Regions from separate parts of the Homo sapiens genome. Here region 2 is linked to region 1. Evidence: fine-mapped expression QTL. Tissue or cell type: gastroesophageal junction. Region 1 holds a variant in brackets; the other region holds the start of a gene. All regions are shown on one strand. Distances are between the middles of the regions.

Evidence for each region. PIP is the estimated chance that this variant, and not a neighbour inherited with it, causes the effect.
Region 2: SLC30A8 starts here. The variant in region 1 is the best candidate, but not a certain one, in a credible set for the expression of SLC30A8 in gastroesophageal junction (GTEx, PIP 0.67).

Annotation. Positions count from the first base shown.
Region 1 is chr8:117,008,494-117,018,687 of GRCh38, forward strand. It overlaps a transcript of SLC30A8 not described here and the pseudogene RN7SL228P. Among named protein-coding and RNA genes, the nearest start is that of AARD, 75 kb to the left of the region's middle. The variant CCTT/C (reference allele first, on the strand shown) is at 5,795.
Region 2 is chr8:117,130,353-117,140,546 of GRCh38, forward strand. SLC30A8 (solute carrier family 30 member 8) reads left to right here and starts at 4,643. Exons shown (of 8, transcript NM_173851.3): 1 at 4,643-5,046. The coding sequence starts at 4,976. The region is part of intron 6 of LOC105375716 (a long non-coding RNA gene); the gene reads right to left.

The sequences.
Region 1 (10,194 bases):
CCCAAAGTCCTATTCAGAGCAACCTCATTCTGTCTGAGGGTGGGCTGTAGAAACTGTTGGTAAGATTGATATGTCAAATGGTCAAGTATCTGCAATCCAGAGTGGACTATCTCTGCCATCTGAGGTTGCAATGAGTTTATAGATGTTCCTGACCTTGTTTACAGAGGTGGTGGCCATTCTACAATAAAGTACATGAGAACTATATCTATCTGTTGGGAAGGATCCTTTTACCTCAAGGCCCCCTTCTGCTTCAGGTCATGCTTTGTGTAGCCCAGTGTTGCCTTCAGCCCCAGAGCCTAGCCTGATGATACTCATGAGGTCAAGCATTTGTTTTGTATCTTAGTTTCTATTTCTTCTTAACCCTTATCAGCCCAGTGTTTTTAGGGTAGATGACTGTTATGTTAGGTAGGCCCACATCCGGAGTGTCTAGTTATGTGATGTTGGGCAATCTACCTATTTTTCTAAAACTCAGTTTCCTCCCCAGTAAAGATGGAATAATACAGGATTACTTGGGAATCAAATGAGATGATGTTTGTAAAGTATCCTGAACAAATAACTCTTCTACCAATGCTGGTTTCCCACCCTGTCCTTCTACTCAAGGACTTAGTAATCAAAATCCCCTGCTTAGAAAGTTGCTGATAAACTCAGTCATACTCAAACTAAACTGCTGGACTTCGATGGCTTAAAGAGTTTCTATTTCCTTGGAGACCTTTGACTGACGTTAAAAAAAGAATCTCTAATGGTGGAATTGCAAATACTCTTAAGTCAGTGAAGGGAGATATTTGAAAGAGCATGGGCCTTTTCTGGAACTCCAGAAATCATAACTTGGAGGCCAGAATTTCATATTGAAAAAACTGAGAGGGAAGAAAAAAAGACTATTTTCTGAAAATTCTAAAAGGACCAAATGAACTTGAATTGCCCTTCAAGAACTAGGTGAACAAATTGCTCTTTGTTTTTTGTCATTCTTATGTGATTTCTGTTGCAATTCAGTTTAAGATGGGGCATTGGCAATTTTGTGATCTTGTGACAAATCATGGGGACTCAATGAATATTAACAAATCCCCAGTGACCTGAGATTGCAGGACTCCATAGTTACTCTCAAAGGAAATAGTTTGTATCAAAACACTTTCTGATGTGAAGGCAGGCTGGGTTTTGTAAAACTTTGTAAAGGAGAAGCTGATAAATTCAGGCTGTTTATCAAACAGTTTATTTTGCTGGGGAGACAGAAAAGAGTAAACCAATATGATGAAGGCCTTCTTCTCAGCTTTGTAACAGAGAATATACAGTATTTACCTGGGAAGATTGTTGACTGGGTCCACAATTCACATAAAATTATGCAGGTTTTCTGAATATGTCATGGGAACATTTTTTGTCCTCTCTTTGGAAATTGCTCATTTTTAAAACTTCATGATTCATTTTGTAATATTTTTTCGGAGTGAAGCAGGCAAAGCCAACGCACTTGACTTGAAGAGGTTGCTTATGAGAAAGGTTTGAACAGCACAGGCTTTGAACCTGTCTGAGGTTGATTCCCTGGAAATGGACTCTGAGATGGAGTTTTGTGTATATGAGTTTTATCAGAGGGTAAGCCTAGGGACAGCACATGTAAAAAAATTGGAGGAATTAGAATTAGGCAGGGGAAGAAGTTTAATGGGGATAGAGTTGGAACAGAGGCCTCAGAAGACCCCATGAGAGCTTTGTTGTACTCTTCCAAACTGAGGCAAAGCGGTTAGGCTCTGGAACCACTTCTTATCAATGGGGCCTGACTTTGGGTGAGGGAGCTCCCTTTGTGGAGGGAAATTCCAGGAAAGGTCAGTTGTGAGTCCTCAGCAGACAAAGCTTCAGCCAGCTCCCACAGTGTCCAGAACAGGAGTCATACCCTCGGGTTAGAATCTGGCAGCTCCACGGCCTAGTAGTTGTGAGAATTTAAGCAGTTCATTTAAACCTCTGAGATTACCTCACAGGATGTTGAAAGTTCAATGAGTTTTACTGCTTAGTAAAGTGCCTAGAATTTAGGCAACGGTCGAAAAGCATTGTTATTATTACATGGTGCTTTATGAAAATTATTAGTTCATGTTTTTCTCCTGAGTTCTACATTCACAGATGTAATTGGTGACTGACGTCACTGTATTAGTTTGTTCTCGCACTGCTATAATGAAATGCCTGAGACTGGGTAATTTACAAAGAAAAGAGGGTTCATTGGCTCACATTTCTGTGGGTTGTAAAGGAAGCATAATGGCTTCTGCTTCTGGGGAGGCCCCGGGAAGCTTCCAATCATGGTGGAAAGTGGAAGGCAAACAGGCACATCTTATATGGCACAGCAAGAGCAAAAGAGAGATGGGGGAAGTGCTGTACACTTTTAAACAACCAGCTCTTGTGAGAACTCTGTCACAAGAACAACACCAGGCGGATGGTGCTAAACCATTAGAAACTGCCCCCGTGATCCAATCACCTTCCACCAGGCCCCACCTCCAGCACCGGAGATTACAGTTTGACATGAGATTTGTGCAGAGCCACAGATCCAAACCTTATCAGTCGTATATCTGGGTGTGCCACAGTTTCTTCAAATTCTATTCTACTACGCTAAACTCTTATCTACTTCATCCTCAGGCTACAGCCCGAGAGAACGAGGGTAACTCATAGGGAGAAATAGCCATAAGAACAGGAGCAAGAAAGAGAAGGGCAGTGGGGGAAGGGGATGCAGATTTTTGATGACATGGAGGAGCCCCTGAAACCAGATCCTCCCCTGGACTTTGCAGTATGTGAACCAACTCTCTTTTTGACCAGGTGGTTTTAACTGGGTTTATGTCACTTGTAATCAGGAGTCTTGACCAACGTTTCATTTTTCAGGTTGTGTCCTCTTTGCCTGAATGAAACTTATCATTTTAGTCTGCCCTCTTATTGCGAAGTTCCTTGAAATGCCAAATAGCTCGTTTGTGAAACTCGTAAGGTAAACTTGCAATGGAGTAGATAGTTTCCAAATTAAACACTTCTACCCTGTTCTATACCAACTCCTGCACCTGAGACAGAGAGAAGCCTAGAGAGAGCTGACAGCAGAAGTCACTTTTTGCCAGCCTCAAGGCTCTAGACTTGTTAATTTAGAGTTCGTGGTGGACCCTCTGTAATTTTGCACTATCCTTGGGCACTGCCAAAAATATAGCATTCAATTTTATTGTGCAAAAAGAAGCCAGGGGTGATGTTGGACCTCTTTGGGAAAAAGAAAATACTCAATCCTCCAAAACTTCTTAAAGTTTAATGGCATTTTGTTACATATTAATAATCATCTAATGGCAAATAACTTTTAACTACTCAATAAAACATAAGCAGGACTACTACGTGAGAAATATTTTGGAAGCTTCCAGTTTATGAAAATGTTAAGACAGTTATTTCAAAAGACCATGAGTAATGTGAATTTTATTAATTCAGAAGATTTTCTCATTCCATGCACTTGTTTCACAGTGGGTAAGTTTTACTCTTTGTAACATAATTCATACTGATTTCGAGCTCCTTGAGGATAGAAATTTTGTGTACTTAGCTTACTTTGAAAAGAACCCAGAATAATTCCAGATTGCTTTCTCCTCTGAACTTTTGTATTAGTTGCTCATTCAAAAGTTGAGCAACTAATTAGTTGCTCACATAAAACTCATTTTGTATTTAGCATATGCTGTTTGGAGTTTTAACTTTTTTTAAAATTTGAAGAGTATATACAAAATTAAAGATAGGTAAACAATACAGAGTTCCTTTCCTGAAAGTTCTTTTACTTCTTATTTTTAATGTGTACATTTTCTTTTGTTCAATGTTTTCTGTCAGTGTTATGCCATTTTAATGATAGCTAATTACAGTATTTTAGCAGTTAATCTTCCTAATTTAATTTTCTAATTCCAGACTTCCCAGTGAAGTCAACCAGTTGTGGATTGAAAATATTAAAAAAAAAATGTGTCCCTACTGAACACATACAGACTTTTGTCATGTCATTATTACCCATACAATACAGTATGACAACTATTTACATAGCGTTTACATTGTATTAGGTATTGTGTATAATCTAGAGATGATTTAAAGAGCACAGTAGGATGTGTGTAGGTTATATGCAAATACTATGCCATTTTATATCAGGAGTGTCCTCTGGAGTTCCTGGAGCCAATCCCCAAGGATACAGAAGGACGACTGTATATAAGTGTGTGTGTGTGTGCATGTGTGTGTGTGTGTTGTGCATGTACATAGACATATGTATACACACACACACACACACACACACACACACACACACGGTGGATCCTCAAATAGATTGTAGGCCTTTGAAGGCAGTCAGCATATATTTCTTATAATCTTATAATACTCTAGAGCCAATCATAATGCTTTTGCACTTCAGAGAAACTCAGTAAACAGTGTTTTAATTATAGTGGTCATGACAACAGTGTATCATCTGACAGCTCTAAGAAAAAGATCTAATAATTCACTATTGGCATGACTGCCTCATTCTAATGGGGCTACTTTTGATGAAAGAGCAAGCAGACCCTGGCATTTCCTCTGGCTTTCTCTGCAACTATTAATATTTCTTATACTTTCTTGGAGATTCATTACTACCTGTGTCAGGAGAGGTATAGCTTTGAGAATTCAATTGTGTGAAGAATGTTAGCAAAATGGATTTGTATTCCTTCAGCTCAAGGGTAGAAATGTCAAGAAATTTGGAAGATAAGAGGGAGTAGAGGCATGGACAATGAGGCACAAGGAAAAGCATAAGAATGTTTCTTTGCCATTTTAGCATTCATCTTTTTGTGAATTTTGCTTTCTGTATACAGCTCACCTTCCTCTGTTATCTGTCTCTACTGCATGATTCCTTCTCATTCCCACATTTGAAAGAGTTGTAGAAGGTAACAAGTATTTAATAACAAAAGACTGGGAATACAAGGACTGAGCAGCAGAGATGTTCAGTGGGAAATGTTATCAAATCATCTAGGCACCCCTTTTGAGCAGCACCTAGCATTGCTCTAGGGTAGATAAAAGAAGAAAATGTGGAAGTAAAAAAGAAAATAAAATATTAATATTCATTCATTTTTTTCTCAGTAAATTCTCTTGTCCACAATGTGTCAGGTATATTAGCACCTTACAGCTTAAAAATGACAACCATATATATACCTGGACTTGGTGGTGTCAAGCTTTGGGATGAAGATGGAAATCCTTCTTATGGGAGTCTAAAGGGGCCAAAGAATTATCTAGGAGGGACAGAGGTGAAGGAATGAAGAGTGTTTTCTTTCAAGTCCATTTTAATCCCTCTTTTTAACTTTGCTTTCCTATTTAACTTCATTTTTTTCTTAAAGATTTTAGTTTTACATAGAGATGTTTAAAAACAAAGCCTCTCTGTAGGTCATGTGAGAATATATTAATCATTATCAGTCATTTTTTTCAATGATAGCACATTTAAGGATAAATTGTTAGCCATTAAATTCATGAAATCCTTCACCCTTAATACAGAATCTTTAACTTAGAATATTTTTGAAAAAAGTGTGAAACAGACTATCAATATGTTTTCATTTAGCTCTTGGTGAACTTGGCATTGCTGTTTTATTTGGTTGGTGCAATAGTATTTGCAGTTTTTGCCACTGCGTTTAATGGCAAAACCGCAATTACTTTTGCACCAACCTAATATAGGGGCACATGAATGCTGAAGATGAGGGGATCAGTAATGATTCTGAAAAGGTGGTCAGATCCCGACTCACAAATAAATATTCCCATTAGTAACTCACTGGGGTTTCTTTTCAAGTGTTATCATATTAGCCTTTGGCTGCTGAACAGT[CCTT/C]CTTAGTTTCCAGAATGTGGCTGAGAGTAACAAGGGTGTAACAAATGAAGTCTTTACAAAGAATGAGCCTATCATCTTTGAGGAAATTCTCAATGGGTTGGCCAAGGAAAGAGAATGGCTGATGAGTCTGTGGTGGTGAGTCCCTATACCTTGATTCTATTCCTTCAATTGCCATGAGTTAGCTGTTTAAACATGATGCTAGTCATGCAAATATGCTGAGCATATTTAGATCTGAAAAATATAGGATGGTCTTTTTAGGTCCCTTTTGGACTTAAGGTAAATCAAGTGTGTGAGAGGATAGGTTGCAAAACAAGTACGTAGTGTTACTGAAATGGATCCAGTTTTAACTTACTGATGTCTTATCTCAGTTCCTTTCTCAGGGAACTGATCATCAGGCCTTCTGGCAAATATCAGAGAGCTGAGGCTTTCTATTGATAGGTCACTGCCCCTGGGAAATGAGATGCACCTACTGCCTGTTGTCCAACTCCCTTTTCTTACCCTTCCTCAGTTCCCTGCTATATAAACCCCTAACTTTAGTCTGTGGGAGAGGGATGGATTTGAGGTTTGTCTTCTGTCTCTCTGGCTGATGTCACATGAATAAAACCTTCTTCTCTGCTAATATCTGTTGTCTCAGTAATTGGCTTTGCGTGCAGCAAGCAAAGGGACCTAGACCGAACCCCTGGCATTTGGTAACATCACAACTATATATCTATATATATTACAAATATATATATATATAGATATACCGAGAGCTGAAACCAGAATTTGGGATGAAGGTGGAAATTCTTTTTAGAGGCTGTTGAAAGGACAAGATGTTGGTGAGGGGAGCTTATAGGAAACTGCGTGGCACAAACAAGAGGATTAAGGATCTTTCTATCAACCATAAAACTTCTTAAAAGTTCCCCGCTATCTGACTTTCTTTATATGTTCTACACCACATAGAGATTTAGGACAAAAAACCATGTATCATTATTCCAAGGAAAATACGATGCCAGTCACCTTACAATGAAACTTAGCAAACAGCCCATTCTTATAGTTTCCCTCTGCTCAGACACACAAACACATACACCTGTGCTTTGTTTACTCTTATTTTCTGCTGTTCATTTTTCTCCATGGTCCATTCCAAGATAAAGGTCCTTTGAAGGTGGAAAAAAATATCTGGTTCATCTTTGTCTTCTTAAAGCTGCATTTCCTAAAGTGGGTCCAATGGGAAACATTACAGTAATAAATTAGATGCTATTATGCACCCCCCCCCCCCAAAAAAAAGAGGGCGAGGGAGGGCTTTGTGTCAAACCTGTTTGTGAAACAAGAAGGGGACATAGAATACAGGGTTTTCTGCACAGAACGCTTTCCCACCCACCTTTTTTTTCTGGAGGGGAGCATTTTTCCTCATGACATCTGTCTTAGGATCAGTGTTTGTTGGGACTCACTTTGTGACACAGGCCTAAAGTAGGAAACTTTGTAGTAAGCAGAAAATAATAAATATAGCAGATGACTCTAAGCCATATGTTTTTCTCTTCAAATGATCCTAATTGGTGTTATGCTTTATTTCACTGGTGTTTTACAACCTGGTACATTGGGGAGAGCCACAGGGTCATTTATTGAACATTCAGAACAATGGGCAGAAGTACTTGTTGAGTAGGTTAACTTCTGCCACAAATGACAGGTGTGTCTAATGGTTTGGGAGAAGGGGAAGGAGAAGCAGCAATGGAATGCGCTTGAATAAGAAGGAACAAGAGCAAACGTTGGTAAGAGAGAAGGGGGATAATACCGGGCATAAGGTTACTTTCAGCCAGGTGAATCAGTCCTGGAGAGGTCACCTAGGCTGTCTGTTTAGACCAGGCAGAAGAAACTAGAAATCCAGAAATCCAAAAACTGGGATATTGAAGGGAAAAAGGGATAGGTTCCCAGGAAAGTAGTTTGTGGAAGCTAGGTGTTGTTTTAACCTTGCGCACAGAAAATGCTCAGTAAATAGCCTTTGAAAAATGGACACCAATGGATAATAGAAGTCGATATTGAATCAAAGAGTTTTTGAGTTAGGTGGTTTCAAACATTCTTTCTGCTGAGGATCAGATATAATGTCAGACTATAGTTGGGCTGGGCACTGCAGAAAGAGGAAAATCAAGTTAACGAAACTGAGCAGGAAAAGACAGGGGCAAAGAACAAGGCAGCTATCAACTCCAGGCTGAGGTGCCAAATAAATACATCTCTCTCAAGTCTCTCATTTCTCCTGTTGAAATGCACGCTAACAGCTGCTAGTTTAGTATCCACTTTGGGTTCCCTGTTTAGTCACTGAAAACAAATACTGTCATCATTTCAGCAGAGAATATCTGTAGATAGCACATATTTTATATATATTTACATAGCAAGTTTACAGCTAACAAAAGATTGCTCTGATGAATATACAAGGAGAGAGATTAAAATGTACAAATATGCTTAGAGCTTAAGAGAAAACATTTACCTCATTTTCTTCCTGTCATGAGGGTAGACGCTTAAGACAGCATGAAAAATAGTGATTCTTTCTCCATTTATTCTGAAGCTTTCTCCATTGTTATGATGATACTGCCATTCACATTTTAAACAGATTTTTAAAAGATCTATATTTCTAATTCACGTTATGTTATATTCATCTAGCATGCTCACAACAAGATAAAGCTAATAAAATCAGGGAAGATCGTCGAGGTTTAAGGTATAGTAAGGTGGTTAAGAGAGTTAGAGTGCCTGGGTTTGTATCCTGGCTCTGATGCTTGATACTGTGTGACCTTGGGTAAGTCACTTTACTTTCTGTGCCCCAGTTATTTAATTTGTAAAAGGGGGGAAATAGTGTCTCATTTATAGGGTTATTTAGAGATTAAATTAGTTAATATATGTGAGGCACTAGAACTGTACCAGGCACAAAGTAAATGCAACAGAGTACTAATGTTGGCTATTGCTGCTGTTATTAATATTATTATTAAAGATCATAGTTACAGGGCCCAGTGGCTGAGGGTGGATTTGTGGTTTTCTCTTGTGTTCTAATATCAACCTGCTCTCAAGCACTTTGCTTCAGTTTCTGAAGTTGCCAAATAATATTAGAATACAAGGTTTCTTCATCCCTGTACTTAAATTTTATCTCAGTTGCAACAGCATTTCATTTCTGTATTTTCTATGTTTGTAGTGCTTTCTCTCAGTCAAAATATTTGCTAAACACTTACTCTCTGTCTGGCATAGTTTTTGGCCCAATAGAAGCAAGGCACCAGCCAACACCAAAGTCAAATTGACGTGGAGCCACAGTGAAGAGGATGTGAAAGGGCCCTGCACTTGTGGAATTGACACTAGTTCAGGCAGGTGGAGAATAAGTAAGGAAAGAAGCGAATACAACAATTTCAGAATACCTGTGAAGAAAATGAGGCATTATATGAGAGTGACTAAATGAGGCAGAGAAATTTAACTTTTATTGGCTGCCCAGGCCATGGAAGACCTTGCTGAGAAGATTCTGGGTTGGAGGAGAAGATTCAGAAGAGATGAATTTCTTTTTATTAATGAGTTCATTTAGGATGATGGCTTTCTGCCCAACAGGGAAGTTATCTAGACTCGTCCTGTCCCATAGAAATAAAATGTGAGCCACTTATATAATTTTGAGGTTTCTTGTAACCATATTTGAAAAGTTAGTAGAGCTGGGCATGGTGGCATCTGCCTGTAGTCCCAAATACTTACTGGGGAGGCTAAAGTGGGAGGATCTTTCCAGTCCAGGCATTCTGGGCTATAGTGCACTATGCTGATTGGGGTCCACACTAAGTTTGGCATCAATATGGTGACCTCCCTGGGAACAGAAAACCACCAGGTTGCCTAAAGAGGGATGAACTGGCCCAGGTCAGAAACAGAGTAGGTCAAAACTCCTATACTGAACAGCAGTGGAGTTGCACCTGTGTATAGCCACTGCATTCCAGCCTCAGCAACGTAGTGAGACCTTGTCTCTTATAAATAAATACATACATACATACATACATACATAAAATTGTAAAAGGTAAGAAGAATTAGTTTTAATAATATATTTTAACATAATATATCAAAAATATTATTTCAACATGTAATATGAAAAATCATTGAGCTATTTTATATTCTTCTTTTTTTTACTAAGTCTTCAAAATCCATAATGTCTTTGATGCTTATTCAGCACATCTCAATTGGACTTACCACATTTCAAATGCTCAGCAGCCACAGGGGGTTGGCGCCACCATGTTTGGATAGCACCACTGCCTTGATAGCACTGCTGTGTTGGATAGCACCACTGTGTTGGATAGCTACACTGTGTTGCATAGCACTGTTGCGTTTGATAGTGTTGGCCTAGACCACAGGTTGAAAACTGCGGCCTGTGGGCCAAATCTGACTAGCCCCCCCCCCCCTTTTTTTTTTTG
Region 2 (10,194 bases), 120 kb after region 1:
GAGACGATGAGCTTTGCCTTTGCTCTGTTGGTATTCATCTGGGAATGCTCTGTGAAAATCCATTTCCCAAAGATGAATTATGATCCCCTAAAACCTTTCACTGAAGGAAAATAAACAGTGCTCATGAAAATTAAATGGTGGCATTCCAGATAATGACAAGAGGGCTCTATTATTATTATTATTATTAAATTTGAGCATTTAATGTTTTAGTCTTCAGTGATGCTCTGTGCATTTATAGACCAAGGGGTTGGAATATTAGAAAGTATATTTTTGTCTACTTTTCTATTCTAATCTTTAAAATAATGGATAGGTTCTTTGTAATCCTCTCTTGCCTTTTTATATAAATAAAAAGACATATAGTTGTGAGATTATGAAGCCAAAAGGCCATTGTTTTGGAGTTTGTAAGAAATAACAACCATATCTCACCTAGAGGGCGTTTTTGAGGGTTAATTAGTTCAAATTTGCAAGTGCTTGGAAAAAGAAGTGTGGTATATGGAGAAGAATTGAAGAAATATACACTTCATAAACACTTCAAGCAGCTAGCCCCAATATTTCTCCCCCCAAAAATAATGCTAGTTCATTTTTCTGTCATTTATTTGCATCTATGAGACTTAATAAAATATTTCTTTTATTCTTTTAGTATCAATATTTTATCAAGTCTTTCTATTCTTAACAAATACAAATTGCATTTTCACCAGAACATTCCTATAGCTCAATCGCTTGAAAAATAGAAATAGTAAAAAAAATTACATGGTCCTAATTTATCAAGAAGGAAATAAACATCATATTGCTTTCGGTCCATTTTCAAGCAGTGTATAAAATATTGGAAATGGTTTGTGTTTTATACATATTTACTTTAGATTAAAATAAAATTTTCATAATGCTCTCTAAAATACAATCCAATTAAATTTCTAATGTCTTTGTTTTCACATTTCTAGATGAAACCTCTGAAATACTCACACTGTAGTAATAACCATAAAGCTACCTTGCTAAGAAAATACTACTCAACTTAGAAATAATAAGATCTTTATAGTTATGTGAGAATGCATGAGTCCAGAATCTTTAGTGGGTGATTACACTGGTTGAGTTTGAATTGCCTCCCCTGTTGTGGAAGACAGCTCCATAGTGAAGATCATTCTGAATGGCACTCTACTGGTGAGGGGGTAGAATGAGGCAGACATCAATCTAATTTGAGAAAGTAGAGTCCAGAGGGTTTGAGAGATCTACCCAAAGTCATAGAGCCGATAGCTGAAGTCCCCAGATCTTCCTTTTTCAATAACCTTTATTTCCTTGATGGATGCTTCATTCACAGGTAATTCTTAGCCTTCTGCTAAAGCTGGAGCCAATTTCTCAGCAATAGCCAAAACATTTTACTTAGACATGGCCCAGTGTATAGAAACTCACAGTTACATAAAACTGGTTATATATCAGAGACTATGCTAAGAACTTTTATACATATTATCTGTTTTCCTCTTCACAAGAACTCTGTAAGATGGATTCGATTAATACTCCCATTTTACAGGTGAGAAACGGAAAAACACAGTGGTCAGGCAACTTGTTCAAGGTCACATATCTAAGAAAGTGGTCAAACTGGAAACTAAAATTGTCTACCTAACTAACTTGAAAACCCATATATTAAACCACTTCACCACACTACCTCTCCACACCAACAGGAAAAAGCAAAACATGATGAAAGTCCACATTTGTTATTTAAAAACAGGCACATTTCTATGTCTGATTTAAAAAGATGGTTGCATGCACACATTGGCAACATGAAGTATTTCTGAAATACGAGTTTAAATATGGGGAACACAAATTGTAAGTACTTGGTACTTTAGTATCTAGGGATAATGATGGTAGCTTTTTATAAATCCATATGTCCTTTCTACAAGTGAAATATCCAACAATGTTTAAGATACTTGTGAAATTATTTTTGCACAAGTATTAGCTACTGTTTGTAACACCCTATTAAGAAATTGTTGCTGACAACAGCTAGGACTGAAGAGCCAAACCAGTTCTTCAGTGATGTTGGTGATGTTCTTGTGGCTGACAGAATACTTATTTCCACAGGTAGCTGTTATAGATTGTGTGTTTCCCATTCAGTTACTCCAAGCTTGTGAAGGAGAGTGGGCGGAGAAGACAACCTGTAATTCGGGATGGTTTGGAAGCTGGTTGCCTAGGAAACTGAAATGAGCAGCGTAATGCCCACTAAAACCAATGTCTACAGGGGATGGGATTTTCCTTTTTGATCCAAGTTGCTTTCCAAATATATATTCTATGCTGCTTGTGGAGCCCAGTTAGGCCGTTGGCCCTTGGTGGGCAGTTCATGCCAAAGTAGACCAAAGGTTTGTCAGGGAGGATGAGAGATTTTTCATAAATGTTGTGATGACAAAATATTTGAGAGAGGGAATGACGGTGCAGTTAAAATGAACTTGTAAGAGAATAAGGTGATCAGCAGATGCATATTTTACATGATATAATATGCAATTCTTGATCATAACATCTGCATCTAAATTTATGGCAGCAAAACTTTTTAAGCATAATTTTATTTGCTGTAATCTACTGTTCTCTGTTCTTATGCTACTCACACTGGAAGCTTTGCTTTATGGTAATCATCTTCAAGAGTAACTTTTGGGATTCATAAATCTTTGATGAAAATCATAATTAATTTCCTAGTACTTTATAAATATGTACATTTTTATTAGTAAATGTAACATACATATCCACACATATATTTTAGGTATCTATATATGTGTGCATGTATATTTAAGTTGAACCATATAAAATTGCTGATATTAGACCACATAGGACTTATATAGTTTATCTTATAGACAAATAGAAGAGATCATAGGATACATTTTTGACAGGGGGTAGCAGTATTTTTTGTTGTTTTGCTTGGGTCTCTCATTGTCTCTTTTCCCATCTTCACTTTTCCCTGTCCTACATCAACCCCATCCTACTCTCACTTTATTCTTGCCCCATAGGCAATCCACATTAACTACCTGGCATGTATCCTTCACACTCATTATAAATTATATGTCAATTATGTATGTATGTATGTCAATTATAAATAGATCTGTACATCCGTATTTGTACTAGAGGCAAAGTTCGCATGGAGGAATCTCAAACTTCCAGATTGTTTATTTCCTGTTGATATCTATAGCCAAATATTCTCCTTCCTGATTTGAAAATATTGCTTATCTCTTTTTTTTGTACTCACCCTTAATGAATTTCAGGCTGATTTAAAGTAGTTTCCTCATTTTCTGACATTCATTCACTTGAATTCTATTTCTCTTGTCTGTGCTAGAAACTATTCACAAATGATTCAAGCTGTGACATATGGCAGTGTGTCACACAGGTGGATTAGTAATTCTTTTCTGGTTTTCTACTTTCGCCTCCACAGAATAACTGATTACTTTGTAAGGTTAAGAGTAAGAATATACGAGAAAAAATACATTGGTTTTTATTCTGCTAACAGTAGACCCAGGATTTCAATGCCTTCACTTGCAAGGAAAAGGCTCCCCCAGAGCCTCTTAGAGGCTCCAAACTGTGTGAGCAAAGTTAAGGATCAGTAAGAGTGGGGTCATATGAGAAGACCTTAGAATTTATGTTATAGATGAGAGTGTTTGAAATCTTAAGATAATAAGAGGTACAGCTACACCACAGATGTGATAGGAGACCTAATAGTCTCATTCTGAACCAAAGGTGACTTCTCCTGTCACTGCCTATGACAATTGGCATTGAACCCCATCCTCCTTTTAGAGCACAATATTCATTTTATTAGGCCATTGTGAGAGATCTCAGCTCAGCATAATGGGCAACTTCCCGTGACTCTGGGCCACTGGGTTATTCTGGGACTTAACTACTCTGAGTTTTCTCACTAGAAAGTTAGTGTTCACACAAGGAAAAGGCAACAAGAACCTGGTGGTCTGGGGTTTACTCCTGTTCTCCAGTCTGCACAACCCCCTCTTTCTCTACCGTTGTGTACATCTTTATAGGTCTTGAAACCTTTTGCCCACACACAAATGCCTACTGTTTGTCCAGGCTCTTGCCATAAGGCTATAGTTCTTTCTCTTATTTGGGAAGGAAAGTGCTTTGTATGAAGTAAAATGCTGATTCCTAGGAGTTGAGGAGTGTGAGGTCTCCCAGGAGCAACTCAGAGGCTTCCTTCCTCGGAGCTGGAACTGGCATGCCTGATAGGGTTTCCTTGGGTGAATCCTTGATCCTTAGTAGAGGGTACCTTGGCCAGGAAGAACAAAGCTCACTCTGGTTCTTGTATTTTGGAGGGCTGTTATTTACGTAGAAGCAGAGTCTGTCCTTCTCTTGCCAATCAAAAGGATTTCAAAGCTGCTGTACCAAGAACTGTTTTCAGATTACTGGTTTCAGAAACTATTGACCCTTGTCCTCCCTTTCAATAGTGAAATCCCAAAATGGTCCTAGGAGAGACAAGTAAATTCTGACAGCTGCTTAGAGGTCATCTTAGAACTAAATTCCAAAGAAATAATTTTAGGCTGATAAAGAGTCCAGAAAAAGGAGGAGGGAGAGAAAAAGAAAGAATTAGTTTAGTGTAGCGAATGGTAGCTATTTGCAGCTCACCCACGTGTGCTCCGAAGGTCAAAACCCTACATCAGCAATTTGTAGCAAGCTCTTGAGCTCCTCTACCTCTTAGAAAGCACAATTGAATCAGATATCATATGAAAGACATACACACTTCATGTAATGCTACCTGCAAGTCTCCCTAGAAAAGCAGTTTTTGTAGGTGAAAACAATGAAGCCAGGTAATATTGCAAGGAGGCTGTAATTTTAGCAGACCTACCAACAACACTGATGTAGGAAGCTCATTATTTTAATTTCTGGAGCCTTTTAATTTTTTCTTTAGAAAGTGTATAAATAATTGCAGTGCTGCTTTGCTTCCAAAACTGGGCAGTGAGTTCAACAACAACGACAACAACAGCCGCAGCTCATCCTGGCCGTCATGGAGTTTCTTGAAAGAACGTATCTTGTGAATGATAAAGCTGCCAAGATGTATGCTTTCACACTAGAAAGGTAATAGATGTCTGTGTCTGCTTCACAATTTTCTCTGTTGAATATCATCCAATTCCTATACCTTGTTGCTTCTGAATTGTAGGCCTTTACTCTGCAACTTGGGGGCACTCTGGAACATTTTATAAGTTGTTGACTGACATGTATTTTATATTCTGAAAAATGCAATACTTTATATAGTTGATTTGATTCCTTAAATATCCTAAGTGCATAAAGAACACATTTTACTGATGTGTTTTTCATCTGTCATGTTTATTCCAGAAAATAGACCTATATAATCTGTTTACTTTTCCTTTTCTCAATTATTCTCAATTTTAAGATAGATAGTAAATTTTATTATATTATATTTAGAAAAAGTTAAGACTTCAGCTACATGGCAAAATTGTGGTTGTATTGATCTTAAAATGAGCTGTTGTTTTCATGCTTATAAAGTATCATTATTAATATACATACCTATAACAAATATAGCTGATTTTAATGTTCTACAAAGTATTCCATTTCTTTTTAATGTCTCCCACAGTGTCACATGCAATACATTCATTCATTTTTCACTTGGTTAACAATTATTGATTGAACACACCTGTAGTAAGTGCAGAACTTATAATGAGAAAGAAAAAAATGTCTAGTTTCAGATCTTTGTCCTCTTGAAACTTAGTCTAATGTGAAATACATATTAGAACTAGGCAATTACAAAACAGTGTATTTGTGTCATATTGAGGGTGTTCAATAAGAATAACTGGACTTTGGAATCAGAGGAAGCTTTCTCAGAAGTAATAGGCTAAGAGCTAAAAATAAAAAGGAATTAAAGTAGGGTTAGGGATAACCTACATAGAAAATAGTTTTAAGGAAAGTTTCCCAGACTTCGATAATTGCACAGTAAATATACTTTCACATACATAAGAATGTGAGCTTGGTTTGTTTGAGGAGTTGAATCTGAATGGGGTTCAAAAAAGGAACACATTCAGTGAATATAAATGAGCTAATGAAAATCTGAAAAGAATTGATGTTAGAAGAAGAATTTAAGAGAATACTTGCCCATTAATAATACGTGTAATGTTCTTGTTTGTTTCACAAAGCCAAACTAATATTCTAAGGAGTAGTGATACTATGTTTGGGAGCATCAAATATTTTAGTAACAGCAAAGAGATTTTATAAAAAGGATATTTATAACTTGGCTTAAAACAAAGAATCTAGCAATCTCACATTAGAAGAATTATTTTTCTTAGAAAATAATATTAGATATGATGTATTGAGGTTATTAACATAAAAAACAAAGCCTTGTGGTAAGTCAGGCAGAAGTTTTGGACAAAAAATTGTTAACCCTATGGATACTATCAATAGAGCATCTCCACATTACTGAAATAACAATATTTCCCTTCTTATTAACATAGACTATTAGCATTTTGTTGCACAAATAAGCCAACCACTTATAGTTACAAAGTCTCATTCACCCCATAAATAGGTATGGTTTTCAGGACACAGTGTTTATAAGAATTGTCAAACTCATTTGTATTTTCTTGTCAAGGGAAATAAATTAAATCTGGAAGAGATTATTTATCTCGATCCCTCATTTTACCATGTAGGAAACTGAATGCCAGATAGAACAAATGCCTTTCTTGAGGTCAGAATAAATGTGTTTCTTGAGGGCAGATGGCTAATTACAACAGAACTGGGCTGTGGACCCAGGCCCCCTTCTTGTTAATTTAGTGTTCCCCTTCTCCGTCTACATCTCCTGTACCCATACATGCACCATGTGGGCTCCTGAATCCTTAATCTATCTCCTCCTTAGGTCACATGTCCCTGAATTCCCTCACTTACTCACTTCTTCCCCCACCTCTACCAATCTATCTCATTTATTTTGTTCTGTCTCTATTAGTTGTGGATAACTTTATCCCCTGATATTCCTCCTCTTTTCTCCTTCTACCTCTTTTTCTTTCTACTTTCTATTATCAGCTTTCTATTTAAATGGTTACTGGCTGTTAAGAAACTTACTCTGAAGAAAACTTTATTATCTAATTCCACAAATGGAGTGTTCCATTTATCTATGGCTGTGCAACAAACTACCCCAAGATGTAGTGGCTTAAACAACAACTATTTTATTACGATTCTCTGGGTCAGGATTTGGGCAGCATTCCATGTGAATTAGTTGGAATAGAAGGCTGCATTCTGCTGGTATCTGGGCTAGGCTAGAAGGTTTAAGATGGCTTCACTCACATGACTGAGATCTTTGTGTTGGCTTTTGCCTGGGGCGGGGGTCTTAATTCTTCTTCCCATGGCTTCTCTCCCTGTATGATGTCTCACTTTATCTGGTTAGCCTGGAATTCCTTATGTGACAGTCCAGAGTAGCAAGAGAGCAATAGTGGAAGCTGACCATTCTCAGATAGCTTAAGCCCAGAACTGGCACAGTATCATTTTTATCACAATTTATGGGTTAAAGCAAGTCCCAAGTCTCAGATTCCATGGGTGAGGCAATAGATTCTATCTCTTGATTGCATGTGCATATTGGATGACAGGAATTGCTGGAGGTAATCTTTACAGGCATTTTACCACAGGAAGTAGTAATATTGGACCCAGTAGGTGCCATGAACCATATTTTTTTACCCTCTCCATTCTCTCCAAATCTGTTTCATTGGTGGGATTCTCTGGGCTTTGGGTTCATTGTAGCAAAAAAAAAAAAAAAAAAAAGAAAAAGAAAAAAAAAAGTCGTGTAAAGTTGAACTACAACACGAAAAACAATCAATGTTTTTCTTGGTGCTAGGTGGAAGGGATCAAGTTTCTCTTTTCCCCAAGCCATATGTTGAAGAAGTGCAGAGGAAGTAAGGGCAGGAATAGATGGTAGAGGTAAACTGCTAGAACCTTTACAACAACTATTTAACTGCTAAAAATTATAAAAAAGAAATGAAAATCTCTGGAAGTTGTCTTAAGGGCATGCAGAAAATTAATAATTATTTATTCAAGAAAATCTAAATCTCAGTAAGAAGTGAGCGTCTATGGCATTTGAGCCAAGATCTGCTCCATTAACCTCTGTTCTTCCCAAGCTCAGTATGATGAGAGCTCAACTCTGAGTGGATGTAGCCAAAAGACTGGGCTCCCTCTCCTCCCAGCTTCCAGTTAAAGATCATAGTTCACCCCTAGAGCAAAAGGCTGTTGGAATCTCTTATTGTCCCAGCTTCAGGTTGCAGAAATTCTATTCATTGTAGACAGGACCAAGAGGACTATGGTTTCCTTCCTCTACCCAGCCTCCTCTCATAGGGTATAATCTCTAGCCCAGGAGCAGCAAGGTCCTGAATATCCCTGCCCTGGATCACTCATAGTGTATAGGATGTATTCCAGGAGGCATAAGCAAAAAAGACTAGGGACTACGATCCGTATTCAGTGCTCCACTTGTGGAGCAAGAGTATTGCTCCAGGAGAAGTAGGTCACTGTCTCTTCTGCCAGCTCTGGTGCAGTGGTGTAAAGGTACTACTCATAGGAGAGGCAGGCCATAAGAATAGAGGGCTATGTATCTTTCCCTTAGAAGACTGATGATACATAAGCTGGAATTTTATTTGTAAGACAGCATAGGGTATTTCAAGCATAGGGACACTGTTGAAAACAATGAAGATTCTTCTGGTGGACAATTAAGAGTAGGCTTGTTGCTTCATGATAGCAACAAGATAGTGGCAGACCAGCTAGAAGTTAAGCAAAGACAGGCAGAAAAAGAGGTAAAAAATGCCCTCTTGGATTTGGCACTAGCCACAAAATTTGGCCTCAAATATTACCCCTATAAAGAAGCCTGTTATAGATTGAATGTTTATGTCCCCCACAATTATATGTTGAAGCACAAATGCCAGTGTGGCTGTATTTGGAGATAGGGCCTCTAAGGAAGTAATTAAGGTTAATTGGGGTTATAAGAGTGGGGTCCTGATCTGACAGAATTAATGTTCTTATAAGAAGAGACTCCAGATAGCTCACTCTCTCTCTCTTTTTGGGTGCACACACTAAGGAAAGACCACGCGAGGAAGTAACGAAAAGGCAAGCATCTATTAGCCAGAAAGAGAACCCTCACCAGTGAATTTGCTAGCAGCTTGATTATGGACTTCCATCCTCTGGAGCTGTGAGAAAATACATTTTTGTTGTTTAAGCCACACAGTCTGTGGTATGTTGTTATAGTAGCTGAAGCAGACAAATTTAATTGGATCAGATTGTTGGTCAATTCATACCTCAGGGTATTATTGAAAACCATAGAGCAACAATTCAGCAAACAATTAAGAAGGCCAAAATCTGGGTGTGATACCAACACAGGCAGAACAATCACTTAACAGTGAGATAGTGGAAAGAAACAGTCAAAGTGAACACTACTAAAATGATTATTATCCCTTGGAAATGGGAGAGGATAAGAAAGACTGCATCTACCCAATGATGCACCTTCTGAGGAATGGCAACAGAGGCTGCGCATGCAGGGAAAGTCAGACAACATCTGGTAAAAAAAAAAAAAAAAAAAGTAGAAACAGTCCAGGTGTTGTATTTAGAATTTGAATATTTCAAAACAGCTATTATAACTAGGTTAAAAGAATTAAAGAAAATCAAAGAACAAAGAATTAAAGATAGATATGATTTAAAATGTCTCATAAAATTGAGAATATCAATGAAGAGTTAGAAATTATTTTTTAAAAAAGAACCAGATGAAAATTCTGAAGTTGAAAAGTACAATAAATGAAATTAAAAATTCACTAGAGGGGTTCAACAGTAGAGCTGTACTCATAGAAGCTGGCAGAAGAAAGAATCACTGAACTTGAAGATAGATTGGAAGATATTATGCAACATGAAAAACAGAGAAAATAGAATGAAGTAAAAAAATCAACAGAGCCTCAGAGAAATGTGGTACATTGTTAAATGCATTAACATATTCATAATAAGAGGGCCAGAAGGAGAGAGAAAAAGGAGCAGAAAAACAGTCAAAGAAATAGTGGCCCCAAACTTCTGAAGTTTGTTGAATATTAATCTACACATTCATGATGGTCAACAAACTCTAAGAAGAATCAAGCAAATAGATTTACATGCTTGCACATTACAGTAAAACTATTAAAAGCAAAACACAAATAAAAAACCTTGAAAGCAGCAAGAGAAAAAAGAAAAGATTCATTATGTATGAGAGCATCCTGATCAGAT